Homo sapiens: one gene and its partners. The protein of the gene in region 2 purifies or fractionates together with the protein of the main gene of each other region. This does not show direct contact. Each region holds a gene or a part of one and is shown on either strand. Other genes may lie near its edges. The genes, in order: CLMN, DYNLT2B and ABHD17B.

Region 1 (9,962 bases), on a different chromosome or scaffold from region 2:
GCCCTCATCAATGGTCAAATGCTACTGTTTTTGAAAGATGAAACAAGCAGAGGGCTTATTTATTTTTTCAAGATCAGAAGAAAAACTTGCCATTTTCTAGTCCCTTTGGCTGGGAAAATATCTTTTTTTCTTTCTTTTTTTTTTTTTTTTTTTTTTTTGAGATGGAGTCTTGCTTTTGTCTCCTAGGCTGGAGTGCAGTGGCTTGATCTTGGCTCACTGCAACCTCTACCTCCCAGGTTTAAGTGATTTTTCTGCCTCAGCCTCCGGAGTAGCTGGGATTACAGGCACCTGCCACCACGCCTGGCTAATTTTTGTATTTTTAGTAGAGACAGGGTTTCTCCATGTTGGCCAGGCTGGTCTCGAACTCTTGACCTCAGGTGGTCCACCCACTTCAGCCTCCCAAAGGGCAGGGATTACAGGCGTGAGCCACTGCTCCTGGCCTCTTTTTTTTTTTTAAAGGAAGGCAAGGTATCAGAGAAATGCCTCATCCCATCTCCTTGTCTGCCAGGACCCAAGACTCCCAGACCTCACCTTGGGCTCCTCATCAAACGGGCTGTACCCTCCCCCTACGCTCACCCACACGGATTGAGGCAAGGGCTGCACTTGGGAGCAAATTGCAAGGTGGGCTGGGGATCAGTGGGCAGTGCTTGCTGGGCAGGTGAGGCAGCGGACCGGAGCCAAGTGAGGCAGACGGTGTTGATTTCATTCCCACACTGCACCCAAGGGAGCTCATCTGCCCACGCTCTCACCAAGAGTGAGATCCATGTAAGATGGAGTTCAAATCTAGATCTCCCGATTCTACCACTGCAACCCAGGGCTCTTTCAGCCACACCGCAAATCACCTGTCCAAGTGCTGGACACATGCACTCTCTGCTTTTGGCAATTGCTGGAAGGAAAGCATTCGAGAACAAACTGCCACATTTGTATTTTCACAGGCCACATCCAATAGGCCAGGAGGGAGGATGCAAACCACTAATTCATCATTTTATTTTATTTATTATTTATTTATTTATTTATTTTGAGACTTCAGAGAAGTCAGCACACAGCAGGCCATGGAAGCAAGTGGAGGACTGGGTTCCTCTCCCTGGGGGAAGAGGGGGAAGATGGCAGCCGTGGTCCCTGGCACCTGCAGAGCCATCCAGCCCTCTTCCCATCCATTCCACGGTTGGCAAACACGGAGTGTGCAGCCCTGCCCATGTGGCCCTCGGCCTGAGGATGCTGCTCCTCCTAGGGCTTAGGTAGCCACTCCTCATTGCTCAGATTTGGCAAACTGAATAAAACCAGCCCCCCACTTCTGGCCTAGCTAAAATCTGCAGTGTCTTTTAGGACGAACCTGATCCCTTATATTAATTTCCCTTATTCTCTTTATTGGCTCAACTAATCTTCTAGGTCTTCTACCCCACTCATTCACACCAACTACTCAACTGTCAATAAACTTAAACTTAAAAAAGACTACTCGAACCAGACTTTTTCTGTAGCTCCCGCAGGGTGCAAGCCTCTCTCAATCCTCCAATCAGCTCCAGTCCTTTGGGCCCCTCACTGGGCTCTGATGAGCCAGGGCTTTGTCATGTATCTCAGTGTTTCATTTACCTTCCATTTGCTGTATGCCCCCGAAACCATCGTGTAATAAACCTTTGTCCCCTACACTGGCAGGCCCTGTCAGGCACCGTGCTGGTCTCTAGCATCCAAAGATCAATACACAAATGTCCACACTCTCTCGGGAGAGAAAAACAAAGCCCATGGAAATCAGGTAAGCACTCAAGGAGAGATTGTCAAAAATGTGATCAGCTATAGGGAGGGAGCAATGGCTCTGCCTGGGGAGGAGGTCGGAGGGCTTCTGGGAGGAGGTGCCATTTGCATTGACTTTGAAGGTTGAATAACTGCTTGCCCAGATGGTGGGACCAGCCCAGTCACACCTGGAGGCAGAGGAGAGCCTGGATGTCTGGGGGTGTGGGAGGATGCTGGCTTGGCTAGAGGGGAGGGAGACAAAGAGGGGTGGGTGGCCAGGTTAGAGCGGGAAGAGTCTTGGAGTTCATGCTAAGACATTTAGACTTTGTCCTGGATGCAGCAGTCAGGAAGTGATAAGGTGAGACTTGTGCTTTAGGGTCATCCCTCTGCAAGCTGAGCTGGGGAGGAGGGACAGTGACAGACTGGGGAAGGGTCTGAGATAGAGGCAGAGCCAATGCAATCTGAAATAGCTGGTCACTTTCCCACCTGGCTCCTGCACTTAGGGGACCTCTACCCTTAGTCCCTCTACCCAGAACTTCCTCCCCAGTTCTAGGCTCCCCAAAACCCCCATGCAGCCTTTCTGGATCTGGGTGGGAGCCTCCTTCTGTTGAACTCCTGAATCCCTTCGCTGGGCCCATCTCTAATGGCTGAGGCCACATTCTCTCACAGTACAGTTACTGGGGACTCTGTCTCCCGCATTAGACACCGAAGGCAGGATTTTCCTTCTTTTTTTATCTTCCTGGCAGTGCCAGATGCATCGCTTTCCATGGGGTTGGATGAGTAAGCAGGTGAGCTCATGGAGGGGCTGGAGAGGCCGAGCCCAGGCCCTTCTCCTCCCTGGCTGTCTTGCCCTGGATGCCCTGTGTGCACTATATCCAGCAGGGCATGGCCAATGTGGTTTCGGACTCACCTCCTGGATCCCCAGTGCCGTAGCAGGACGCAGCACTTATTAACGTGGCATCTGCAGGAGGAGCCTCCCCATCAGGCCAGCCGCCCAGGCACCCCCCTTCACTGATCACTCCAGTGGCCCTTTGTGAGCTACTGGGCCAGATGAAGTGGGAACACAAGTGGCAGATAAGAATGTGACCAGCTGCTCAAGCTCAGAAGAGCGCATGTCCCCTTATGCTATTTACACACCAATTTCAAACCACAGAAACCAAAGATTAGTGCCCAACAGGCAAAAGTCCTTTAAAAAAATCAAAACTGGAGTCAAACATGAGGGCTTCTTCTGTTTCTCCTAAGTTACTGCAGAACAGGCTAGTGTTCACTAAGTGCATGCTAGATGTTAGCTACGATGACTGTTTTTTTCTTTAACTTTCTAATGCCTATGTTAGTGGTAAGTTATGAGAGAACATCACATACCGGGGCCTGTGGGGGTCGGGGGCTAGGGGAGGGATAGCATTAGGAAAAATACCTAATGTAGATGATGGGTTGATGGGTGCAGCAAACCACCATGGCACATGTATACCTATGTAACAAACCTGCACGTTCTGCACATGTACCCCAGAACTTAAAGTATAATAAAAAAATTTAAAAATATATATATATATATTTTTTGTTTTTCAACTTTTATTTTAGATTTGGGGGGTTCATGTGCAAGTTTGTTATGTAGGTATATTGCATGATGCTGAAGCTTGGGGTAATTATCTTCCAACCCCCCAAGCAGCCGTGTCAGCTTGGAGACCCTTGGGAGTCACAGCGAAGAAGGCCTGGATTTCCAGCCCTCCCCACCCCTCTCAAAGGCCTTCCATCATTCCCCACGACCCCTTCTATTTCCCACACTATGAGGTTCCCCTGGCTGCAATACCCAACGGTTAGTACACTATTCTCAGTACCTGGGTGATGGGGTCATGAAGGCTGACTCCAGCCTTGAGTTTTAAAGGACTTTTTATTAGTTTGTTTGTTTCTTCCTTTATTGGCTTTTTTTTCCTTTTTTTTTTTTTTTATTTTACTTTAAGTTCTGGGATACACGTACAGAGTGTGCAGGTTTGTTACATAGAAATACAAGTGTCATGGTAGTTTGCTGCACCTATCAACCCATCATCTAGGTTTTAAGGCCCGCATGCATTAGATATTTGTCCTAATGATCTCCCTCCCCTCGCCTCCCACCCCCCAACAATGTGTGTTGTTCCCCTCCCTGTGTCCATGTGTTCTCATTGTTCAACTCCCATTTATAAGTGAGGACAAGCGGTGTTTGGTTTTCTGTTCCTCTTTTAGTTTGCTGAGAATGATGGCTTCCAGCTTCATCCATGTCCCTGCAAAGGGCATGAACTCATTCTTTTTTATGGCTGCATAGTATTCCATGGTATATATGTACCACATTTTCTTTATCCAGTCTATCACTGGGGGGCATTTGGGTTGGTTCCATGTCTTTGCTATTGTAAATAGTGTTGCAATAAACATATGTGTGCATGTATGTCTTTATAGCAGAATGATTTATATTCCTTTGGGCATATACCTCGTAATGGGATTGGTGGGTCAAATGGTATTTCTGGTTCTGAAATCAGATGGAGGAATCACCACACTGTCTTCCACAATGGTTGGACTAATTTACAATCCCACCAATGGTGTAAAAGCATTCCTACTTCTCCACAGCCTCGCCAGCATCTATTGTTTCCTGACATAATCGCCATTCTTACTGGTGTGAGATGGAATCTCATTGTGGTTTTGATTTGCATTTCTCTAATGATCAGTGATGGTGAGCTTTTTTGATTTTTAAAGGACTTATTCCTGTTGGGCACTAATATTTGGTTTCTGTGTTAGAAATGTGTGTGTAACAGGATAAGGGAGATGTGCTTTCCTGATCCCACTGCCCAGGTACTGAGAATAGTATGCAACGGTTAGTTTTTCAACCCTTGCCCTGTGACAATGACTGCTTTTGAAATCATTTCTGCCCCTCCTCTGCTGGACCCTCAAAGGTGACCTCACTTGATCCTCAGAGCATACCTGTGAGTAGGGCCAGGACTGGGGGAAAGCCAGTGAGGTGCCCGTGTGCAGGATTTCAGGAGGTGCTCACTCTCAGGTGCCAACCCTGCATTTGCCCGAGCCTCACAGTAGGTGCCTCTTTGAATTTTGCACCATAGTAGTCCCAAGGGAAGCCCCCTCATCGCTATTTTATGGAGCAAGAAGCTGAGCTTCAGACAAAGAACTATCAAGTTTCCCAGGCAGGACCCAGGGTTCCCAAATCCCACGGTTGAGTACCTGATGGCTGTCCATGGGGTCATTCTCTTTGGTCTCCCTTTGCTGGTGGTCCTCATGGGGGGCCAGTGGAGCGGGTTCTGAGGCTGGTGTGGTACCCACACCACCCCTGCTGAGATACAGCACCTGGTCGCTGGCACTGGGGAGGCTCTCTCCTGGCACCGAGGAACTGGAGCTGCTCTGAGAGCCATCGGCCTCCTCCTCCCTGGAGTCCAGGTCTGGCATATAGCCCTCTGGCTCTTCGAGATCCATTTCTTCATTTTTTAGATCCTCCGGGTCTTCTACATAAGCCTCCAAAACTGCAGCCAGGGGAACCTCATAGTGTGGGAAATAGAAGAGGTCGTGGGGAATGACGGAAACCTTTGAGAGGGGTGGGGAGGGCTTGAAATCCAGGCCTTCTTCGCTGTGACTCCCAAGGGTCTCCAAGCTGACACAGCTGCTTGGGGGGCTGGAAGATAATTCCTCGCCCACACCCTGGAGGTCATCGTCTTCTCCCTCTTCCTCATAATGAGGACGGGTGGACTTTCTCTTGGCCTTTTCATGCACCTCTGGCTTTTTATCCACTGGTGTCTCTTCTGGGGCTGAAGGACAGCCTTCAGCTTCTTCTCCGGAGTCCTGATGAGGTTCATGTTTGTCCATCTTAACTTGAGGCTCTGGCGAATCCTTCTTTTTGTGAGCAGATTTAATACTCCTTTTACCTAGTTTTTCAGCATGATTCTCAAAAGCCTCAGCATCCTCGTCAGGTTTTGTCTCATGAGGTGAAGGAACTTTGTTGAAAGCCTGGCTGGTAGAAGCAAAATCTATTAGGTCGCTGTTAAATTTTGAGGCTTTTAATGGGATGGCTTCAAAATAGTCTCCCTCCTCTAAAGCTTCTACAGTCATCAGGTTAACCTTGATCTGGAAGGAATCGGCCATCACAGTATTTTCTCCTGGGGGTGAAAGAGAGTGACTTTCTTCATCGTGGCGGGCTGTACTCTCTAAAGCACCATTACAGGAAGAAGACTGAGAATTATTGTTTGTGCCCTCCACCAAAAAAATGTCACCAGCGACCTTGTCAGAGGAGGATTCTGGAATCTTCGAGGATTCCTGTTTCTGTTCCTTTTCCTCAGCAACCTCAACTGCCAAGACATGTCCATCCTGCCTCAATGATTCCTTTGCCACTCTTGGGCTCCCTTCAAAGCAAAGGGACAGGTTCTTACTGCAGAAAGGATCCTTGTAGGTGTCAGCCTCAAAGTGAACTGTTTTCTTGATCGGCAAAGAGTTGGACCTCCCGTTCTCCTTTCTGGATGATAAAATGGAGGATTCTGGAGATGGCTCACTGATGTCGCTGGTCTTACCTGGGCCCCCTTGCAGGACCTGGTCAATAATCTGGTGCATGAACTCGGTGGAGCTGTCTGACAGCGCATGGCTGGAAACACCATCCAGGCGGAATTCCTTCATGCTCTCGGGCTTGTCACAGACAAAGACTTTGGAGGGTGGTGGGTGGCTGGTTTCATGGTTAACAGTGTAGGTACGCTCCCCATTTTCAGTCAGAACGAAGACTTTGCTCTCCTGTTCAGAAGGAGTTTCTTTGATGCGAACAAAAGTGGATTCGATAGGAACTTCTTTATCTGAATCGAAAATATCTTCCTGCAAAAAAAAACAAAAACAAACAAACAAAAAAAAACAAAAGAACAACAACAAAAAAAAGCACAGAGCAACATGAGTAAGAAGAATATTTAAGTACAACCCATATCCACCTTTCCCAAAACACAAACAAACAAAAATGGAAAAAGCCACTTCAAACCAATGCAAAGTGTTCTAAGATGTAAATGGTTAGAGAAGACTCTTGTTCCTGCTGAAATATGAAAACATCAGATAAATAAAAATATAAAATACCATGTTTTTTAAAAAGCTATGGATTAACGAATCTCAATGAAACCAAGCTCTAAAGAAGGACAATCCCTTCTAAAGTGAGCAGAGATTGTCAGCCCCTTCATGCTTGAGGACCATGTTGCCTAGTCTGGGTATGGACTTGGAGAAGAGCTAATCCACCTGAGATAAGGAAAGATCAGCCAAATCTTTATTGATTGTGTGGGCTGGTATGAGAGAGTGAATCTGGAAGCCCTCCAAACACAAAAGCAATTTTCTTCATATACTAATTAGCCCACACAGGGAATTTTGCTGTGTAAGAGCCAGCTGGGGGCAGGGCTGAAAAGCAGAAAATGACTCTGTGGTACTGCAGTGCTTGACTCCCAATGCACCGATAGTGTGAATTGACTTCAGCCTCAAATCATTTAAAACCAGAGAGAAGAAATTAAATAAAACTGCAACATAGCTCCTATTGACGCTGATATGATCAAAACGACAGCTCCTCATCTTACACACTTGTTTGGGAAAGGGCTGTATTTCCTGAGGGAAAAAAATGACATCTGCTTCAACCTCTATTGTTCTTTTATATACCAAGTTTGACATAAAATAATTACAAGACATGAAGAGGCAGGAAAACGAAATCCACAATCAAGAGAAGAAATAATCACTAGATATAGACCCATATAGGACCCGGAGTTAGAATTCACAAGCAAAGGCTCTAGAATAACTAATCTGTGCTACAAGCAATACAAAAGAAATAGTTCTTCAGGCTCAAAGAACACAATCTCAGATATAAAGCCTAAAGGAGGGAATGAACAGTACTGGAAATGGTAAATATATGGTCAATAGAAAAGACTACTTCAAAGTTTTCTTAAAAAGCCTACTAGCTATTTAAAGCAAAAATAACAAGGTATTGAGGATTAAAACATATGCAGAAGTAAAGTAAATGACAATATAGTAGCAAAAGTAATGGAGATGAAGTAAAATTATATATGTGATATATATAAAATATATACAAATATGTAAAATATGCATTGTACTTGAAGTAGTATATTAATTTAAGGTAAGCTGATGTATGTTAAAGATGAGTATTATAATCACTAGAACAGCTACTAAAAAGATAAAACAAGGTGATGTGGTTAAAAAACCAATAAAGGGGATAAATGCACACAAAAGAAATCCTTGAATAATCCCCAAAAAGTTAAGAAGGAAGGACAATGGAGCATAGAACATATCAGACCAATGGAAAACAATAACCAAGATGGTAGATGAAACCCGTATAAACGTATGAAAAATGTACTGATTAAATGACAGAGTTTGTCAGAATAAATACAAGACCCAACTGTATACTGTTTACAAGAGACATACTTTAAATATAAGTGTACATACACTGAAAGGAAAAAAATGGAAAAAGTTATGACACAAGCACTAATCATAAGAAAGCTGCTATGGCTATGTTCATATCAGACAAAGCACACTTCAAGATGGGGGAAATTTTATAAAAATAAAGCAATCAAGTCATCAGGAAAATATAATAAATTGTGTCTGTGCACTTAACAGCATAGCATCAACATATATTAAACAAAAACTGGCAGAACTAAGAGGAGAAATAAATTCACAATCACAGTTGGAGATTTTTTTTTCAACATTTCTCTCCTGCATTAATGGATCAGGAAAGCAGGAAAAATCAGTATAAATATAGAATACTAGAATAGCATATTAACATATTAACAGCATATTAAAGAATACCAGTATTCTTTAACTGTATAAGACCCGTTCTTTTCAAATGCATATGGCACATTTACCAAAAGAAACCATGTGCTGGGCCACAAAGCTAGCAACAATGTGTGGTACATGGTCAGGGCCCAACAAATGTTTACTGAAATGAAATAACTCAGCAGAATTGTTAAGAACAGTTCACTGCGTGTCTGGATAAGCTGTAAATTCTCATCTGTATTCCCTTGTAGATGTAAATAGACTGTTCTGCAGTGATGCAGCATGTTCTGTGAACCAGAATGACTTTCTCCAGGTATTATTTCTGGCTCAATCTTTTCCCATCTGCAGTTTCTGACCTCAGCATTGGGGAGATCTGTGTCAGATTTGCTCAATTTTAGCTGTGGCTTTGACTCACACAAATACCGTATGTTTTAGTTGATTTCAAACTCTGCCTACAGATTAAGAGCTCAGGGCTAATGAAAGCCCCAATGCCTAGTATTTCAAAATACAGTAACAGGCCAGGAAAATTGAATTGCAAAATAATAATCACTACTTTTTTTTTTTTGCTTAAAACAACAAAAATTTGTTATGTTACACTTCTGGACATCAGAAATCCAAAACAGGCCTCAATGGACTAAAATCAAGATATTGGCAGGGCTGGATCCCTTTCTTTTGATTCTGTTTAAATTTTTAATTGACAAATAATAATTGTATATATTTATGGAGTATAATGTGATATCTTAAAACGTGTATACATTGTAAAATGATCAAATCTGAGAAATCAATATATTCGTCACCTCAAATATTTATCATTTCTTTGTAATGAAAACAGTTAAAATCTTCTCTTTTAGACATTTTGAAATACACAGTATATTATTCTTTCTTTCTTTTTTGTAGAAAAGAAAATGGGGTCTCGCTTTGTTGCCCAGGCTGGTCTTTAACTCCTGGGCTCAAGCAATCCTCCTGCTTCAGCCTCCCAAAGTGTTGGGATTATAAATGTGAGCCACTGGTTACATTATTATTAACTATAGCCATCTTGCTCTGCAATACAATACCAGAACTGATTCCTCCTATGTAACTGTAACTTTATACCCATTGACCAAGTCACCATTATTCACTAAACATCCACTGTTGTTCCAGGCACAGTACTAGGTACTTCACATAACTGTTTATCCTTCACATAGCCCTGAAATGTGGGTCAGATTTCCATTTTACAGGTGACACACATTCAATAGATACACATTCAATATAGATGTGTATCAGAGAGGTCAAGTCACCAGCCTGAGGTCACACAGCTCCAAGTGGAGAACTGGCATTCCAGCCCAGGAATTCCTGCTTCCACAGCGCCCTGTAAGGGGTCCGTATGTGGTGCAGGGACAGGCAGGAAACACACACACAGGTGGGGGCCAGGATGAAAGTCACGGCATGGAGGATCCTGGGAAGTTCTTCTGTACAAAACAGAGCCCCAG
Region 2 (9,807 bases):
TTTTTTTTTTTTTGAGACAGTCTCGCTCTGTCACCCAGGCTGGAGTGCAGTGGCGTGATCTCGGCTCACTGCAACCTCCACCTCCCAGGTTCAAGTGATTCTCCTGCCTCAGCCTCCTGAGTAGCTGGGATTACAGGCATGTGCCACCACACCCAGCTAATTTTTGTATTTTTAGTAGAGACGGGGGTTTCACCATGTTGGCCAGGCTGGTCTCGAACTCCTGGCTGCAAGTGATCCGCCCACCTTGGCCTCCAAAAGTGCTGGGATTACAGGTGTGAGCCACCGCGCCTGGCCATGATGGCACCTTTAAATTAGTAATTAAGGTTAAATGAGACTGGGCGCAATGGCTCACACCTGTAATCTGAGCACTTTGGGAGGCCAATGTGGGAAGATCACTTGTGACCAGGGGTTTGAGACTAACCTGGGCAACACAGTGAGACCTCGTCTCAAAAAAAAAAAACACAACAACAAATGATTAAATGAGGCCATAGGGTGGGACCCTAATTAAATAGGACTGGTGTGCTTATAAAAAGAGGAAGAAAGAACAGAGCTCTCTACACTGGCTCAAAGAAAAAGGCCCTGTAAGGACCCAGTGAGAAGGCGGCTGTCTGCAAGCGCAGGGGCGAGGCCTCAGGAGATACCAAACCTGCTGGCACCTGGATCTTGGACTTCTAGCCTCCAGCACTGTGAGAAAATCTATTTCAGTTGCTTAAGTGCCCAGTTCATGGTATTCTGCAACAGCAGCCTGGCAGACTAATACACCAGCATTCTCTTCACTAGTGTTCAAGAGTTCAACAAGTAGAGGAGCATCACCTCTGTCCACACAGTTTGGATATCTGTCCTCACCCAAATCTCATGTTGAATTGTGATCCCCAGTGCTAGAGGTGGGGCCTGGCAGAAGGTGTGTGGATCATGAGGCGGATCCCTCACGGCTCAGAGCTGTCTTTGTGATAGTGGGTTCCCGCGAGATCTGGTCATTTAGAAGCGTGTGGCACCTCTGGCCTCTCTCTCGCCTGCTCCTGCTCTCACTATGTGACTCGCCTGCTCCCTCTTCACCTGCTGCCATGAGTAAAAGCTCTCTGAGGCCTCCCCAGAAGCTGAGTGATGTGGGTGCTATGCTTCCTGTAACCCCTGCAGAACTGTGAGCCAATTAAATCTCTTTTTCTTTTTTATGGAGTCTCGCTCTGTTGCCCAGGCTGGAGTGCAGTGGCATGATCTCGGCTCACTGCACCCTCTGCCTCCCAAGTTCAAGCGATTCTCCTGCTTCAGCCTCCTGAGTGGCTGGGATTACAGGCACCCGCCACCACACCTGGCTATTTTTTTTGTACTTTTAGTAGAGATGGGTTTTCACCATATTGGCCAGGCTGGTCTTGAACTCCTGACCTTGTGACCCGCCCACCTCGGCCTCCCAAAGTGCTGGGATTACAGGCGTGAGCCACCCAACCCGACCTCACAGCTGCTTCTCACACGGCACCTAGAAGCAGGGGCCTCCTGCTCTCCCACTGCGGGGTTTTCAGTCAGGTCGGGCTGGGTGGTGAGGAGAGTCAGAGCGGAATGAGGAAGATGCTGGTGGGAGAGTGTGGTGTGACAGGCAGGAAGAGGACAAGGCAGGCAGAAGCAGCCTGGGAGGAACCTGGAAGATGGGCACTGGCAAGAAAAGTGGTGGGCGGTCCCCAGAAACGAGTTTGAGAACCCCAGGCTCTGGCCGGGCACGGTGGCTCACACCTGCAATCCCAGCACTTTGGGAGGCCACGGTGGGTGGATCACCAGAAGTCAGGAGTTTGAGACCAGCCTGGCCAACATAGTGAAACTTCAGCTCTACAAAAAATACAAAAATTATATGGGCGTGGTGGTGCATGTCGGTAATCCCAGCTATTCAGAGGCTGAAGCAGGAGAATTGCTTGAAACCAGGAGACAGAGGTTGCAGTGAGCCGAGATTGCACCACTGAACTCCAGCCTGGGGGACAGAGACTCTGTCTCACAAAAAAAAAAAAAAAAAAAAAAAAAGAGGCCGGGTGCAGTGGCTCACACCTGTAATCCCAGCACTTTAGGAGTCTGAGGCAGGCAGATCATGAGGTCAGAAGTTCACGACCAGCCTAGCCAACATGGTGAAACCCCGTCTCTATAAAAAATACAAAAATTAGCCAGGTGTGGTGGTGTGCACCTGTAATCCCAGCTACTCGGGAGGCTGAGGCAGGAGAATTGCTTGAACCCGAGAGGCGGAGGTTGCAGTGAGCCGAGATCATGCCACTGCACTCCAGGCTGGGGGTCAGAGCGAGATTCTGTCTCGGGAAAACAAAAAACAAAAAAAACCCTCCCGGAAACACAGCACCCCAGGCTCTGTTGGAAGGGAATGTGGGGCCCAGGTGCTGCTCTATCCCCTCCTCAGTCCCCTGGATCCCAGCTTGATTCCTCCACTATTCTGCCTCAGTGAGGAGTTGCTGAAGCACTGGGGGCTTCCAGAACACAGGGGTGCCTCCCTCTCCCAGGCTCAGAGGCACGGTTCTGTCATCCGACAGTCCAACCAGCAGAGCTCGTAGGAGGCAGGTCCCTTCAAACACCACCTCACCCTTTCCTCTCCAGGGCTGCTGGCCTAGCAGGCCTGCCAGGGTGGGGAAGGTGGACACAGAGGCCTGTGGGAGACACAAGGAGGCACAGCCTCTTGAGCAGGCAGGAAGTCTCCAAGTCCAGAGAGCACATCCTATTCCTGCATACAACATCCAGGAAGCTTGCCTGGGCTTGTCTCACATTTCCCTCTTGGCTGGTTAGTTTCAGGGTCATGGCTAGGATATGCCTGATATGGAGAAGCTTCTCTTGCTGGGGAAAGGTACTGACACCTCCACACAACTCACGCAGAATTTTTTTTTTTTTTTTTTTTTTTGATACAGAGTCTCATGCTGGAGTGCAGTGGTGTGATCTCGGCTCACTGCAAGCTCCGACTCCCTGGTTCAAGCAATTCTCCTGCCTCAGCCTCCCAAGTAGCTGGGATTACAGGCACATGCCACCACACCCAGCTAATTTTTGTATTTTTAGTAGAGACCGGGTTTCACAATGTTAGCCAGGATGGTCTTGATCTCCTAACCTCATGATCCGCCCGCCTCGGCCTCCCAAAGTGCTGGGATCACAGGTGCGAGTCACCGTGCCTGGCCAACTAATGAAAAGTTTAAAGAATTTATATCTAGTTTTGGATGTTAGGCATGCACACACAAGTGCATGCACACTCATACACATCATCTCCACAAGCCCCATCCTGGCTCAGCCCTATTCTGATGGGTCAGCAGGACCCCAAGGAGAGAAGGGTGGGTCCTTGGCACTAAGACAGTTCACAGTGGTTAGCTGACTCCTTCTTGCCTCCATTCTTTCAGGAACTGCATATAGTACAGAACATGACAGCGATTCGAAAAACAATATCCCAGCTGGCTGTGATGGCTCATGCCTGTAGTCCCAGCACTTCGGAAGGCTGAGGTGGGATAATCACTTGAGCCCAAGAGTTCAATAGTAGCCTGGGCAGCATAGCCAGATCCTATCTCTACAAAAATTAAAAAGATTAGCCACGCGCGGTGGCATTCGCCTGTAGTTCCAGGTACTCCAGAGGCTGAGGTGGGAGGACTGCTTGAGTCCAAGAGGTCGAGGCTGAAGTGAGCGGTGAGTGTGCCACTGCACTCCAGCCTGAGAAACAGAGCAAGACCCTGTCTCAAGTGGGAAAAAAAAAAAAAGGAATCCCTGCCCTTTCAGCCTCTCCTGTAAACAGGGATTACAGGCACGAGCTACCTCATCGGGCCTTAGTTTTTGAAGCTAGCAGAGGCCAAGATACAACAGCCTTCTAAAACAGGACCAGGGACTGGTGCTTATAAGCAGGGAATGCGGCAGAGTACGATGGCTCACGCCTGTCATCCCAGCACTTCGGGAGACCGAGGTGGGCGATCACCTGAGGTCAGGAGTTGGAGACCAGCCTGGCCAATATGGTGAAACCCCGTCTCTAATAAAAATACAAAAAAAATTAGCCGGTCGTGGTGGGGCGCGCCTGTAATCCCTGCTGCTTGGGAGGCTGAGGCAGAATTGCTTGAACCTGGGAGGTGGAGGTTGCAGTGAGCCGAGATCGCGCCTCTGCACTCCAGCCTGAGTGACAGAGCGAGACTTCGTTTAAAAAAATAAAAATAAATATATATTTTTAAAAGCGGGGAATGCAGCCTAAGTCTCTTTCCTTCCTTCCTTTTTTTTTTTTTTTCTTTTTTTGAGACGCAGTCTCGCTCTGTCGCCAGGCTGGAGTGCAGTGGCGCGATCTCGGCTCACTGCAACCTCGGCCTCCTGGGTTCAATAGATTATTCTGCCTCAGCCTCCAGAGCAGCTGGGGTTACAGGCACGCGCCACCACGCCCGGCTAATTTTTGTATTTTCAGTAGAGATGGGGTTTCACCATGTCGGCCAGGATGGTCTTGAACTCTTCCTGACTCAGGTGATCCGCCCGCCTCGGCCTCCCAAAGTGCTGGGATTGCAGGCCTGAGCCCCCGCACCCGGCCGCCGCAATTACTTCTGCACCAGCCTAATACCTCAAGTCCAGGAGCCTCAGGCCCCGCGTCTATTTCCTCCGACTGCGGCGCGGCTGATACTGCCTGAGGCGGGTGGAAGCTGTCGCGCGTCCGGACGCGACCAGTTCCCGCCCAGCAGCCGGTGCGCAGGCGCGGGCAGGGAGGGCGGCTGTGCGGGGCGCTCGCGGGCTTCAGCGAGGCGGGAGGGCGGCCCTGTTGCCCTGGAGACGCTTTCCCTGCTGCCGGCCGCGACCGCAACCCGCTAGGCCTTCATCGCGAGCTACGCCCGGACCGAGAAGCCCCGGCATGGCCACGTCCATCGGAGTGTCCTTCTCGGTGGGCGACGGGGTGCCTGAGGCTGAGAAGAACGCAGGGGAGCCCGAGAACACCTATATTCTGCGGCCTGTTTTCCAGCAGAGGCGGGTAGAGGACGGGCTGTGGCGGGGCGACCTCGAGCGCGCTGGTCTGAGGGGCGGAGCTCGCCTGGGACCTGGGCCACGGAAGGAGCGCGGGGGACGCGCGGGGTCCGCGGGGCGGGAGGCGGGAGGCCGCGAGGCGGGCGGGCGGCCCTGCTGTGACGTCCGGGCGCCCCTCCCGCTGCAGGGGCCGCAGGGGACCCCACCCGCTTCCTCAGTGTTTGGGCGCCGGGCGCGTCTTAGGGTGGCGCGGCGGGAATGGTTGGCCCTGGGAAACCCGCGATGGCGTCCTGAGTAAGGAGATGGGTAGAATAGAGGCAGGAAGCCACTCGCGTCGGATGCCGTTCAGCCGTGATTCGAGGGTGACTGTGCACACGGGTGCCAGGATGGGCTCACTCCCGGCGCGGGAGCTGCATCTGTGCGAAGTCCTACCCGGGTGGGATCTGGAGGCCCTTAGACCACCGCAGCGAGCCCTCGCTAGGATTAAGGCTCACGGGCCAGAGCAGAGGGTACTCAGCTAGGTTTGTGAGATCACTAACTTTACACACACACACACACACACACACACACACTGAAAAAAATATCAGGCTCACGGGCCAGAGCAGAGGGTACTCAGCTAGGTTTGTGAGATCACTAACTTTACACACACACACACACACACACACACACACACTGAAAAAAATATCAGGCTCACGGGCCAGAGCAGAGGGTACTCAGCTAGGTTTGTAAGATCACTAACTTTACACACACACACACACACAACACACACACACACTGAAAAAAAATGTCAGGCTCACGGGCCAGAGCAGAGGGTACTCAGCTAGGTTTGTAAGATCACTAACTTTACACACACACACACAACACACACACACACACACACACACACACTGAAAAAAAATGTCAGGCTCACGGGCCAGAGCAGAGGGTACTCAGGTTTGTAAGATCACTAACTTTACACACACACACACACACACACACACCACACACACACCACACAACACACACACACACACACACACACTGAAAAAAATGTCAGGCTCACGGGCCAGAGCAGAGGGTACTCAGCTAGGTTTGTGAGATCACTAACTTTACACACACACACACACACCACACAACACACACACACACCACACAACACACACACACACACACTGAAAAAAATGTCAGGCTCACGGGCCAGAGCAGAGGGTACTCAGCTAGGTTTGTAAGATCACTAACTTTACACACACACACACACCCCATATTTGCTTGGCAAATATGGAAAACAGGAATTTTGATTATAATGTGATACAAATTTCTTTGTTTATTTTTATTCTCTTGGTAACTCACAGAAAAAGTGATACAAATTTCATACAGGATTTTTCCCTTGGGTAGAATGAACACAGAGAAAGATACCCTCAGTTATCTTGGTAAAAGGTTCTGAATGCCCAGAATGCCATTCAGCCGTATTTTTTTATTTTATTTTATTTTATTTTATTTTGTGAAAGCGTGCAGAACAAAATTAACAACAAGTATATATTTTGTTTTGGGGGAGAGGGGAGTATGAGAAGCTCATTATTGGATGTATTGAGTTGCCTAATAAACATTCATATGGAGCATGAGTTGGAATGTGTTGAAGTTCAGTGCAGGTCCAGGTTGAAGATACACATGTGGCCTATGATTTGTCTTAATTTGTTTATATTTTATAATAAAAAATATGAAAAAGAAGGATTAAGTGGTACTAATGACAAAAAGATGGGAGAAGTTGCGGTATGAAGGTAAGCTGGGGTTGTGGAGTCACCGACTGGATGTTCACAAATTGTTCCATTCAGGTTCAGGCCCTCTGTGGTTAAAGACTGTATCCATGCTGTGCTCAAGGAGGAACTGGCAAATGCTGAATATTCTCCAGAAGAAATGCCTCAGCTTACAAAACATTTATCAGAAAACATTAAAGATAAATTAAAAGGTAATCATGGTGATAACTGGAAATGACTCATTCTCTTCACAGAGTCAGTATTACCCATTTGCCCCCTCTCCATCTTTAAACAAAGGACATTGGGGCCAGGTGTGGTGGCTCACGCCTACAATCCCAACACTTTAGCATGCCAAGGCAGGAAGATTGCTTGAGCTCTGGAGTTCAGTACCAGCCTAGGCAACATGGTGAGGCCTCATGTCTATTTTTCTTTTTTTTGAGATGGAGTTTCACTCTTGTTGCCCAGGCTGGAGTGCAATGGCATGATCTTGGCTCACTGCAAACTCCGCCTCCCGGGTTCAAGTGATTCTTCTGCCTCAGCCTCCTGAGTAGTTGGGATTACAGGCATGCACCATCACGCCTGGCTAATTTTGTATTTTTAGTAGAGACGGGGTTTCTCCATGTTGGTCAGGCTGGTCTCAAACTCCTGACCTCAGGTAATCCACCCGCCTCGGCCTCTCAAGGTGCTGGGATTACAGACATGAGCCACCGCGCCCAGCCGACCTCATGTGTATTAAAAAGCAAAATAAAGGCCGGGCGCAGTGGCTCACGCCTGTAATCGCAGCACTTTGGGAGGCTGAGGCGGGTGGATCACGAGGTCAGGAGATTGAGACCATCCTGGCTAACACGATGAAACCCTGTCTCTACTAAAAATACAAAAAATAGCTGGGTGTGGTGGCACACGCCTGCAGTCCCAGCTGCTTGGGAGGCTGAGGCAGGAGAATCACTTGAACCCAGGAGGTGGAGGTTGCAGTGAGCTGAGATCGCGTCACTGCACTCCAGCCTGGGTGACAGAGTGAGACTCTGTCTCAAAAAAAAAAAAAAGCAAAATAAAAAAATAAAACATCTCTATTAAAAAAACGTAAATAGAATGTTAGCTGTGGATTCTATTAAAGACAACTTTTTCTTCAGTGTCTTGTCTTCTCTAATTATTTGGTGACTTTTACTCATGTAAGTTTTTGCAGATGGGGGAAAAGAGTGAAGATGTGAAATAAAACACTGTCCAAAAAATCTTAGTATTCAGAAAGACCAGAAAGTACAGGGACTCCTTTCCCCTGTATTTCTTGGTTGTTTCTTCCCCCAAGCTGTCAAGTCCTCAGCCTGGCATTTAGTACCTGCAGTCCATCTCTCCTCCCTAATCCTTAGCTACTTCCCTTACTCAACCCTCGACCCCTACCAAACTACATCTGTAGAGCATATTTTGTGCTTTTCCTACCCTGTTCTCTTTGTCTCTCTGATTGTTTTGTTTTTTTTTGTTTTGTTTTGTTTTTGAAATAGGGTCTTGCTGTTTTGTCCAGGGTGGAGTGCAGTGGTGTGAACATGGCTCACTGCAGCCTTGACCTCCTGGCTCAAGCGATCCTCCCATCTCAGCCTCCCAAGTAGCTGGGTCTACAGGCTTGTGCCACCGTGCTTGGCTAATTTTTTAATTTTTAAATTTTTCTGTAGAGATGGTGTCTTGCCATGTTGCCCTGGCTGATCTTGAGCTCCTGGCCTCAAGTGATTCTCCCACCTAGGCCTCGCAAACTGCTGGGATTGCAGGTGTGAGCCACTGCGCCTGGTCTCTCTCTTTTGTTAATAATGTTATACCGTCTGATCTGAAAAGTTCTTTTTTTTTTTTTTTTTCTTTTTGAGACAGAGTCTCGCTCTGTTTCCCAGGCTGGAGTGCAGTGGTGTGATCTCAGCTCACTGCAACCTCCTCCTCCTGGGCTCAAGTGATCCTCCCGCCTCAGCCTCCCAAGCAGTTGGAATTTCAAGCATGCGCCACCACACGTGGCTAATTTTGTCTTGAACTCCTGACCCTCAAGAGATCTGCAAGCCTTGGCCTCCCAACATGCTGGGATTACAGATGTGAGCCACCGTGCCCGGCCTATTTCCATCTGCTCTTCTTAGAAGACATCATTTTTTGAAGAGAAAGAATATCTTCATAAAAGTAATACATGCTCGTTGTAATAAACCTAGACAATACAAAAAAGTATCCATAAGGTTTTTTTTTGAGATGGAGTTTTGCTGTTGTTGCCCAGGCTGGAGTCCAATGGCATGATCTTGGCTCACTGCAATCTCCGCCTCCTGGGTTCAAGCGATTCTCCTGCCTCAGCCTCCTGAGTAGCTGGGATTACAGGCAAGTGCCACCATGCCCGGCTAATTTTTGTGTTTTTAGTAGAGACGGGGTTTCTCCATGTTGGTCAGGCTGATCTCGAACTCCTGACCTCAGGTGATCCGTCCGCCTCGGCCTCCCAAAGTGGTGGAATTACAGGCGTGAGCCACTGTGCCTGGCCCCTTAAAGTTTTAAAATATTAACCAAAGGCAGTTACTATTTAATATTTGTGTTTATTGTTTTTTTCTGAATTTGTTTTTAGTTTAAGAAATTAAAAAATACAGAAAAGTACAAAGAATAGCAATCCTGTGTATTTCTATCACCCAGAATTAACTGCTGTTAGTATATTAGCATTTTTGTTTTTAGACTTTTTAATGAAGGTTCATCGTTAAGATTTTTTGTAAAAAATGGTACACATTCATTATACAAAATTTAAACACTAGAAAAATAAAATGAGAAAAATCACCTGAATGCCACCACCAATAAACAATCATTAATATTGGCCAGGCACAGTGGCTCACGCCTGTAATTCCAGCACTTTTGGAGGTTGAGGCGGGCGGATCTCTTGAGCCCAGGAGTTCGAGACCATCCTGGCCAACATGGCAAAACCCTGTCTCTTAGAAAAATACAAAAATTAGCCGGGCTGGTGGTGTGCATCTGTAGTCCCAGCTATTCGGGTGGCTGAGGCAGGAGGATCACCTGAGCCCAGGGACGGAGATTGCAGTGAGCCAAGATTATGCCACTGTGCTGCAACCTGGGCAACAGAGTGAGACTCTGTCTCAAAAAAAAAAAAAAAATCATTAATACTAGGCAAACA
Region 3 (9,962 bases), on a different chromosome or scaffold from region 2:
TATTTTTTTTTCTTTGTTACTTGTACTTTCAGTATCTTTTCTAAGGAAACATTTTATAACCCAAGGTCACAAAGATTTATGCCTATATTTTCTTTTGAGAACTTCATAGTTTAGATCTTACATTTAGTCTTTGACTCATTTTGAGTTGATTTTTGTATATGGTGTGAAGTAAGAGTAAAATTTCATTCTTTTGCATGTGGATATTATGTTGCCCTAGCACCATTTGTTGAAAACACTTCTTTCACCATTGAATTGTTTTGGCACTCTTGTCAAAAATCAACTGACCATAAATGTCAGGTTTATTTCTGGATTCTCAGTTCTATTCCTTAGATATATTTGTCCTTATGCCAATAGCATTCTGTCTTGATTACTGTTGCTTTATTATGAGTTTTGAAATTGGGAAGTGTGAATCCTCCAACTTAGGTTTTCTTTTCAAGATTGATTTGGCTATTCTGGGTTCCTTGAGGTTCTGTATGAATTCTCTGCATTTTGTTTTTCTTGATTATAAGTGGAGGAGTCTTTTTTCTTAGTTTTATTTTTTTATTTTCTATAGACCTTTATACTTTTATATAAATTTTATAATCACTTTTGAGTTCCTCAAATTTCTGCTGGAATTTTGATGGGAATTACCTTGAAATTTTCATTCTGGGAGAGTTGACATTCTCAATGCTATTAAGTCATTCTTTCCATTTTTTAATGTTCTTATTTAAAATTTTTCTGCATAAAGGTTTTCTGCATTCTATTTTATATTAATTCCTAGATAGTCGTTTTGGTTGTGGGTGCGATCTTATTTATAATTTTTTTAACTATTTTTAGTTGTTTAATGCTAGCTAACATTGAACTGTACCAACTTTACCTAAGTTCATGCATTTGCCAAAATTGCTGAGAAGTCTCATTTGTTTTAATACTTTCTAGATTCTTTTGGTTTTCTATCAGGGTAATTATATCATCTACCAAACATATTGTTTTGTCCCTGTATATCTATTAAGAAAACCATGTGTTTTTTTTCTTTAGTTCATTAATGTGAATTACTTTGGTTTAACATTGGAAGATTTGTCATTCTTGTCTTTCAGCTTGATTTTGTATTTTGTATTTATATACACTTTATATGTTGTTTCTTTTTTTTAAGGTTTTTAAGGTTTTTTCATGCATGTTCAAAGTGAAGTGGACTTACAGTTTTATTTACAGTTCTAAGTTTTGGGATAAAGGTTATAATAGCCTCAGAAAGCAATTGTTGAGCAGCATTCATTTTCTGGAATAACTTCACTTAATGAAAGTATTTTAAGTGAAGGTGGTCTTTGATTTCCCTTTGAAGTTCTGATGGTTATTTGCATATTCTAGCCTTTGTGCCAATTTTGTCCTTTTATATTACTCAAGAAGTGCGTGAGTTTTGTCTAGGTTATTTATTGACACATGATATTCTTTCATTTCTAGAAACTATGTCTGTAGCTCAAAGTCCTTTTTCCTTTAGTACATTATTTCGTTTATTTTGCTTATCTCTTTCTTGTGATCAGTCTTGTCTGAGTACCCTTTCCACAAAACAGTAGTTATGAGTTTGGGTTACAGAGTCATTCTGTCATGTATCAGTTCCATTGATCAGATTTGTGACATTAGGCAACTTATGTAACTATTCTATGCCTCTGTTTTCTCAATTGCAAAATGGGTGTAATAATAGTCCCTAAAGCAGAGGATTGTTGAAAGGATTAGTTAATATGTGAAAAGTGTTTAGAATAGTGCCTGACACTTTGTAAGTGTTCAGTTAATGCTATTTGCTATTAGTAGTAGTGGAAGCCTTTTCTGAAATCAGCTGTTGGTTCTCCATTGCTTTTTGTTCTTTGTTTTGTTGATATCTGCTCTTAATTTTCTTTTTCTTGTTTTCTTTTTGTTTACTCTCTTCTTAAGTTGGACACTAATATTTAAAGCTAGACTTTTGTAATGGATAATTGTAACTCCTTTAGATGTGCCCTGCACTATCATTTTTCTGATGATTATATCTGACTTATTAAGAGTCATGCTTATATTCAGGCTTTTCTTCTATGTCTTAAGCTTATCAGTATCAGTAGCATCCTCAACAAGTCAGGTACCCCAGCACATTTTTACCTCTTAAGTAGTCTCTCTTTTGTCAATCCTCTTCGTATTCATATTCACCAAAGTTTTTGTTCTGGATTTTTAGGGATATACTTTGTTGTCTTCACCCTCCTTGCTCCCATTGCTCACTTGTACAAAAAACATTGTATTAACTATTCTCCTTTATTTCTCATATCTCAGATATCTCATAGAAGTCCCTTGGGATTTGGGGGGTTTTTGTTTGTTTTGTTGTTATTGTTGAGACAGGCTCTCACTCTGTAGCCCAGGCTGGAGTGTAGTGGCTCTATCACAGCTCGCTGTAGCCTTGACCTCCCATGCTCCAGCAGTCCTCCCACTCCAGCCACGCCAGTGGCTGAGATTACAGGCACACACTACCATGCCCAGCTAATTTTTGTATTTTTTATAGAGATGGAGTTTTGCCATGGTGCTCAGGCTGGTTTTCAATTCCTGGGCTCAAGCAATCCTCCTACCTCGGCCTCCCAAAGTGTTGGGATTATAGGTGTGAGCCACTGTGCCTGGCCTTCCCTTGGATTTATCTCCTTCCCTCCTTGCTGGAGTTTTTCAAAGAGAGACTTGATTTGGTTAAGTCTTACGAGTTTTTGTGGGCCTGCAGATCTCTCTCTCTCTTTGTTTTTTTTGATAGAGACAATGTTTTCCTATGTTGCTTAAGTGGTCCTCCCATCTTGGCCTCCCAAAGTGCTGGGATTACAGGAGTGAGCCACCACACCCAGCCCAGATACCTTTATCCTTATATTAAAACTGTATTTTTGTTCTATGTACAATTCTAGGTTAAAAGTTTGATTTCATCTTTAGCTTAAAATTATCTCTCCATTGTCTTTTGGCTTCCAGTGTTTATATTAGAAAGTCATATGTTCATCTGATCTTGTTCATTTTTAAGTAGTTTGTTGTTTTTTGGTACACTTTGAGGTGTTTCAATCTGACTTTTTTTCCCCCTTTAATTCTGAGAAATTCTTAAATAGTCTTATCTTTATTTTCTCCTGGAACTTCTATAGTATGGATAGTGATATTTCTACTTCTATTTCTATCTATTAAATTTTGTTGTTTTCTGTCTCTTAATTCCCACAAAAAAATTCCATATTTGCAAATTACTCAACCTGATCTTTTAGCTCACTGATGTGTTTTTCAACTGTTAACTGCTCAAGCAATCCACTGCGTCTGGCATGAGTTTTATAAGAACAAGTTGGACTTGAAATTATCTAAGTTTAACAAGCTATTTCAGTGATTTTTTTTTTTTTTTACAGAATAAAATGTTTTTCTTCAGTAACTTGCTCACACTATACTAAAACCTAGATTTATTTGTTTTGTTTATAGTTTTTGTGAAATTTTTCAGACTTAAAAAGTATTCAATTAACTTTTGAAAGTAGGTCTGTGTTGCTGCCCTATACCAGGCCTCTTATTAGGAAAGTGATCATTTGCAAGTTGTTGTCATTAAATAAGCCCCAGTTATCTGGCTTTTGGGCAGTGGAAGAGGGGAGTCATTCTGTCAGCATTAAGGAAGTGAAGTTGTCATTAAACTAGACCCTGGCACTGCAGTTTTTCTCCTTTCTGCTTCTCTCCTTTGGTGTTCATCCCCAGAAACTTCTTCACAGCATTATATATGTTCAACCAGCCAGCTTTATTTCAAAAGTAGTTTATTATAGTGTATGAAAGTTTTTCTGCTGGGTGCGGTGGCTCATGCCTGTAATCCCAGCAGTTTGGGAGGCCAAGGCAGGCAGATCATTTGAGGTCAGGAGTTCGAGACTAGCCTGGCCAACATCATGAAACCCCATCTCTACTAAAAATACAAAAATTAGCTGGGCATGGTGGTGTGTGCCTGTAATCCCAGCTACTGGGGAGGCTGAGGCAGGAGAATCACTTGAATGTGGGAGGCGGAGGTTGCAGTGAGCCAAGATCGCACCACTGCACTCCAGCCTGGGCGATAGAGTGAGACTTCGTCTCGAAAAACAACAACAAAAGTGTTTCTGGCTAAGAGATAAATTATAGGACTATAGTCTAGATACGTACCATTTACTTATTAAGCTTTTTAAAAGGCTATTGTGGCTCAGCAGTCAATGGTATATGAGGTAATCAGGGTTGACAAATAACCATAGACAGATATTAAACAGACAGCACTGATATTATACCTTGTACCTCATCATCTTTCTGCAGGTCATTTCCTCCTCTGGAACAGATCCTTTGAGTTCCTTCCCTTTCATCTTCTTCAACAGACACTTTATCCTCCTGACCAGGATAGTAAATTTGTAGCCAGAGTCTATAGTAAACATCACTAATTTATCACATCTTTTGCTGGCTAAGCCCTGTGTATGCCTTAGAATCATTCTCAGCACAACACTTCAGGAAGCCCTCAGTTAAAGTTAGCAGATGACACTTAGTTGTTATTTCTGTCCTATTTCTTGTTCCAACCAGAGTAAGCCATTAACTTATTCAGGCTGTATTTTGAAGCCTAAAAAGAAATAAAGGTAGGAAGCAATTAAAGCATTTCCTAATATCCAAGATGTTTTTCTGCCCTTCCCTCACCTTTTGAAGTCTTTTATGTTATACCTACCCTTGTTCCTCTCTTCCTGTGCTTTTTTCTGCTGCTTCTTATAAACACATTTATACTGAGCATTATAGGATATATTTGATTCTGTATTGAGTGAAAAGGGCATTTTTTCCCCCAGATATTCTCAACCATTTAGTCACTCTGTTGAGTTGTTTTCTTCCCATTTTTGGTGTAATAGGGTACTTTTTTCCCCCTATTCTTATATTTAGATTTTTTTTTTTTCTTTTTGGAGAAAATTGGATGCCACCAAACCTGTAAGGTGTTGGTTTTAAATGCCTTTTCTCTGGAACTAAGCAATGGCCTAATTTTGCTAAAAAGAGACAGGAATTTGAAAAAGGACAAGATAGAAGGAAATACTGATAGAACTAACAAGTATTACTTTATTTTTGTCCCTAAGTTAAAGTGTGACAATGATATGGCCATCACTCACCGTATGTTGTATGATGGGCCTTCACTACACCAACATTTGATATTCACAACCAGGTCCTTCAGTGTAGGTATTGGCCTTGTTTACTTATGAAGAAAATGAGAGTCAAAGAGATAGTTTGCCCAAGGACATACAGCTGGCAAACGGTAAGTGGTAGAGTTAGGATTTTACCCCAGCTTCCTAACTTTAAACCTTGTACTCTTTCTCTTCCAAACATTTAGAAAAGTTTACCTTTAGTAGATTTTACCTTTTTTCCACAATAAACTTTATATTATAGCCTTTTTAGTTTGGGCAGTAATTACATACATACATACATGCATGCATACATACATACACTTTAATGTTCTATAGGTTATTTGGGCCACTGGCACTGTGACCAAAGTGATAGTCTTCTGAGCGTGTTCTGAATCTGTGAGGCAGTGTAGCCCAGTAACATAGTGTAGTGACAGCCTGGAGTCAAATCCTGGCTCCACCACTGCCTCATCTTGTGCAAGTTTCCTTTCTCACAACAACTTACACAGTTGTTCTGAGAATTAAACCAAGTAACACACATAGAGCACTTGGCACAATGCCTGACAAATAGCTTCATAAATGCTATTAGTATGTATTCACTTTATGCTAAATTCCTAGCTTCTCCATGAGGTTCTAAGAACTTTTGCTGAGTTACATAGAAATTACAGACTACACTAAAGATATTTCATACCTTCAGGTTATTTGTAAAGAAATGGCAAATATTACCTTTATCATTTTTGACATTTATGTTAAATGAGATAATAATCACTGCTATTTGAAACCTGTCATATAGGATTTGAGTCTGTCTGCTGGTCAGGAATATTTGCCTCACCCCAGGATTTAAAGTACTTCTAGAAAGAAGCCAAAGGCCGGGCGTGGTGGCTTACTCCTTGTAATCCCAGCACTTTGGGAGGCCGAGGTGGGTGAATCACCTGAGGTCAGGAGTTCGAGACCAATCTGATCAACATGGAGAAACCCCATCTCTACTAAAAATACAAAATTAACCGGGTGTGGTGGCGCATGCCTGTAATCCCAGCTACTTAGGAGGCTGAGGCAGGAGAACCACTTGAACCCGGGAGGCGTAGGTTATGATGAGCTGAGATTGCGCCATTGCACTCCAGCCTGGGCAACAAGAGTGAAACTCCGTCTCAAAAAAAAAAAAGAAGCCAAAAATCTGTTTGGAATCATACCTAAAATAGTAATAGTCATTAACCACCAATAAAATTTACCCATGTCTGTGTTTTAACTTTTTATTGTATGAGTCTACATTCAGTTATTAAAATATTTGCTATCTCCTTTTCTTTTTCAGAGCATGAATAATCTTTCATTTAGTGAGCTATGTTGCCTCTTCTGCTGTCCACCTTGTCCAGGGAAGATTGCTTCAAAATTAGCGTTTTTGCCACCTGATCCAACTTACACACTGATGTGTGATGAAAGCGGAAGCCGTTGGACTTTACATCTGTCTGAACGAGCAGACTGGCAGTATTCTTCTAGAGAAAAAGATGCTATTGAGTGTTTCATGACTAGAACCAGTAAAGGCAACAGAATTGCTTGTATGTTTGTACGTTGTTCACCCAATGCGAAATACACTTTACTCTTCTCACATGGAAATGCTGTTGATCTTGGTCAAATGAGCAGCTTTTACATAGGACTAGGATCACGGATTAATTGTAATATATTCTCATATGATTATTCTGGATATGGTGCCAGTTCCGGGAAACCCACAGAGAAGAACCTCTATGCAGACATTGAAGCTGCTTGGCTTGCTCTTAGGACAAGGTAAATTGTGGTTGGAATTTATTTTTCATACTCGTGGTGGTTAGCTAAAAATATCTTGTGTAAGAATAGAATAAAAGCTGTTTTTATTATACATAACTGCTATATAGAGGTTATATTTACTATTATATACCTGTGAATAAATATTTTAGACAGCAATTTTAAATTTCACATAATAGCAAAACAAAGTTTTTAAAGACAGTTTCAGGTTTGTTTGTCTACATTAATACACGTATATATGTATGTTTTTTTTAACTTAAATTCTTAGCTGGAAGTCCATGGTGCATGCCTATAGTCCTAGTTACTTAGGAGACAAAGTCAGGGGAATCACTTGAGGCCAGGAGTTTGAGGCTGCAGTGAGCTATGATCGTGCCACTGCACTCCAGCCTGAGTGACAGCGTCAGACCTCATCTCTTAAAAAGTTAAAAAAAAAAAAAAATTAAATCCAGTGACAAATGTTTGGTTTTTGTAAGCTTTCTTATTGGAGTGTGATATAAAAAATGTTTATTCAAAGCTGCAACCTTTCAAGGAAATGAGAGAAAATACTGACATAGCTAATTATTCACTTGATCTGTCATTAACAGTATGAGGCTGGATTGCTTTCTATTAAAATCTTAAGCCAAGATTTGCATTATTTTATGTGATTACTTCTTGGGAAGTACAACTTAAAGATACCTTATTGGAATTATTTTTCAAGTATTCATTCTGTAAAACTGAGATTTTACTTTATATTCTGTGTTCCTAAAATTGGGAGAGATTATATCAAGTTTAAAAAAATTTTTTAGGCTGGGTGCGGTGGCTCACGCCTGTAGTCCTAGCACTTTGGGAGGCTGAGGCAGGCGAATCACAAGGTCAGGAGTTCGAGACCAGTCTGGCCAACATGGTGAAACCCCATCTCTACTAAAAATACAAAAAAAAAATGTCTGGGCGCAGTGGCTCATGCCTGTAATCACAGCACTTTGGGAGGCTAAGGCAGGTAGATCACGAGGTCAGGTATTCGAGACCAGCCTGGCCAAGATGGTGAAACCCCGTCTCTACTAAAAATACGAAAATTAGCCGGGCACAGTGGCGGGTGCCTGTAATCCCAGGTATTCGGGAAGCTGAGGCAGGAGAATCACTTGAACCTGGGAGGCGGAGGTTGCAGTGAGCTGAGATCACACCACTGCACTCAAGCCCAAGTGACAGAGTAAGACTCTGTTTAAAAAAAAAGAAGTTTTAATGTTATGATAAATTGTTTAATAAAATTTTCTTACTATGTCAGTTATTCTTTGATTATAGCAGCATACATTTTGGGGAACTAGAAATTGCATTAATCTTTTCTAGTCACCAAGATACCTAAACATTTTTCTTGAAAAAAAAATCACAATTTGGTAGACTTCAGTGTATTATTAGTCAGGTTAGTGTACAATAAACAGATACCTTAATATAGGCTATTCTTTATATTATATGAAAATAAAATATCTGACTTCCAGGATGTTTTAGACTGAAGCTATAGGATATAAAGAAAACTTACTGTTTCTAATTTAATGTTTAAATATTAAAGATTTCATTTAGTCAGGAAAAATTTCCTCAATTTTAATAATAAAGTAGTTAATATTATTAAAGATATTAAAAATATCTTTAAAACTATTTTTCCCTCCAAAGAAATGTAATAAAGTTATGCTCTCATAGCGAAGTTCTACATAAAAGGGATTCTTAAAATCAACTGAAATTATATAAAAACATAAATATGGGGAATAAGGAAAAAAAGATGGCAAGTAGTAGGTAAAGAGTTGATGGGGGATGGTAAAGTTATTGTTTAATTGATAAATTAAAAACTGCTTTAAATAAAAATCTTTTACATATATTGATATCAGTTCCATCAAGCCTTAAAACAAACAGAAACTGAGTGCCCACTTTTTAGAGTCAGTCAGTTGAATAACGTATAACAACTATAAGAAAGTATTATAATTAAAAAAATAGCTTTATTGAGTGATAAGGTTCACACTTTTAAAGGTTAACTTCAGTGGAATAATGAAGTTTTAAAGGGTGCTAAGTTAAAACTGATAGCCAGCTTTCATTATTAGTGCTTCCCAGTAACGCAAAAGGGTCACTTTACTCAAACAAAACATGTTAGTATTCAGTTCAGTGTTCTGTGTCTATATGAAAAAATCCCATTTTTTAAGTGGTCAACTTTACTGTTTTTTTCTTTTCTTTTCTTTTAATCTTGGCATTTACCAATTTGAAGAAAACTTTGAAAAATGATTTTCAGCCTTAATTTTTTTAACATATTTGATAGCCAGTGTTAATCAGGAATGGGCAGATTTCATCAATAATCCCACATACTATTTTAGCACTTATATTTTAGAATTTTAGACCTGTGTTTTCTTTCGTGTTGAAACCAAAATATAGTTGGAGTTTCATAAGTGTAGGTACTTTAGGAAATATTACTTCTCTGAGCCTGTGTTTCCTCATCTGTTTAATGAAGAGATTGAATTAAATGATCCCCAAGATCTTTTCCAATTCTGGAATTCTGTCATCTAATGAAATGTGTGTAATTAGAATACATGCCTTTTATTTTATTTGCCTGATTAAAAGTTAGGACTTAAGTAACCAGGAGAGAGAAAATAAATAATGAACTTAAATAATGTTCATTTTTGGGATGAATGAACATTGGAATGTCCTTTTTGGGAAAATTGGATATCCATAATAACTCCAATTTCTGACCTTCTGATGGACCAAAAGAAACTCGGGGCCTGGCATTCACTATGCACCTTTCCCACAAAGTCCTTGAGTTCCTCATCTGTGTGCTTCAGAGGTAAAAAACACTGAACTGGGAGTCAGTATACCTGGGTTCTAATTATAGAGCTGTCATCTACTGGTGACTTTGAAGATCTGCTCATTAGGCAGCTGGACTCTAGATTAGATGGTCTCTAAACTCCTTTCTAGCTCATACTGTTAGGCAGTTGTTACTCTTGTGAGTCCCCTCATGCTTAATTGTCAGCTACCTCTGCGACTCTATCCTTGAGCATTGTCATTGCTAGCTGTAGCCCAAATTTCATGATTGCCACCAACAATGCTGATATTCAGCTGACAGCAACAATGCAGCCTCAAGAA

What was found.
Region 1: the proteins of DYNLT2B (region 2) and CLMN purify together in Homo sapiens (affinity purification with mass spectrometry; 2 studies listed by BioGRID and IntAct, with this or other methods). This does not show direct contact.
Region 3: the proteins of DYNLT2B (region 2) and ABHD17B purify together in Homo sapiens (affinity purification with mass spectrometry; 2 studies listed by BioGRID and IntAct, with this or other methods). This does not show direct contact.

The regions. Positions count from the first base shown.
Region 1 is NC_000014.9:95,197,909-95,207,870, forward strand, and holds part of CLMN (calmin), read right to left. Parts: intron 6,556-9,962; coding exon 4,930-6,555; intron 1-4,929.
Region 2 is NC_000003.12:196,313,180-196,322,986, reverse strand, and holds the start of DYNLT2B (dynein light chain Tctex-type protein 2B), read left to right. Parts: upstream 1-4,746; 5' UTR 4,747-4,834; coding exon 4,835-4,947; intron 4,948-5,395; exon of another isoform or gene 5,396-6,013; intron 6,014-6,144; exon of another isoform or gene 6,145-6,545; intron 6,546-6,755; coding exon 6,756-6,889; exon of another isoform or gene 6,890-6,902; intron 6,903-9,807. UniProt on the Homo sapiens protein: Acts as one of several non-catalytic accessory components of the cytoplasmic dynein 2 complex (dynein-2 complex), a motor protein complex that drives the movement of cargos along microtubules within cilia and flagella in concert with the intraflagellar transport (IFT) system.
Region 3 is NC_000009.12:71,871,521-71,881,482, reverse strand, and holds part of ABHD17B (alpha/beta hydrolase domain-containing protein 17B), read left to right. Parts: intron 1-6,399; 5' UTR 6,400-6,402; coding exon 6,403-6,869; intron 6,870-9,962. UniProt on the Homo sapiens protein: Hydrolyzes fatty acids from S-acylated cysteine residues in proteins. Has depalmitoylating activity towards DLG4/PSD95. Has depalmitoylating activity towards GAP43. Has depalmitoylating activity towards MAP6. Has depalmitoylating activity towards NRAS.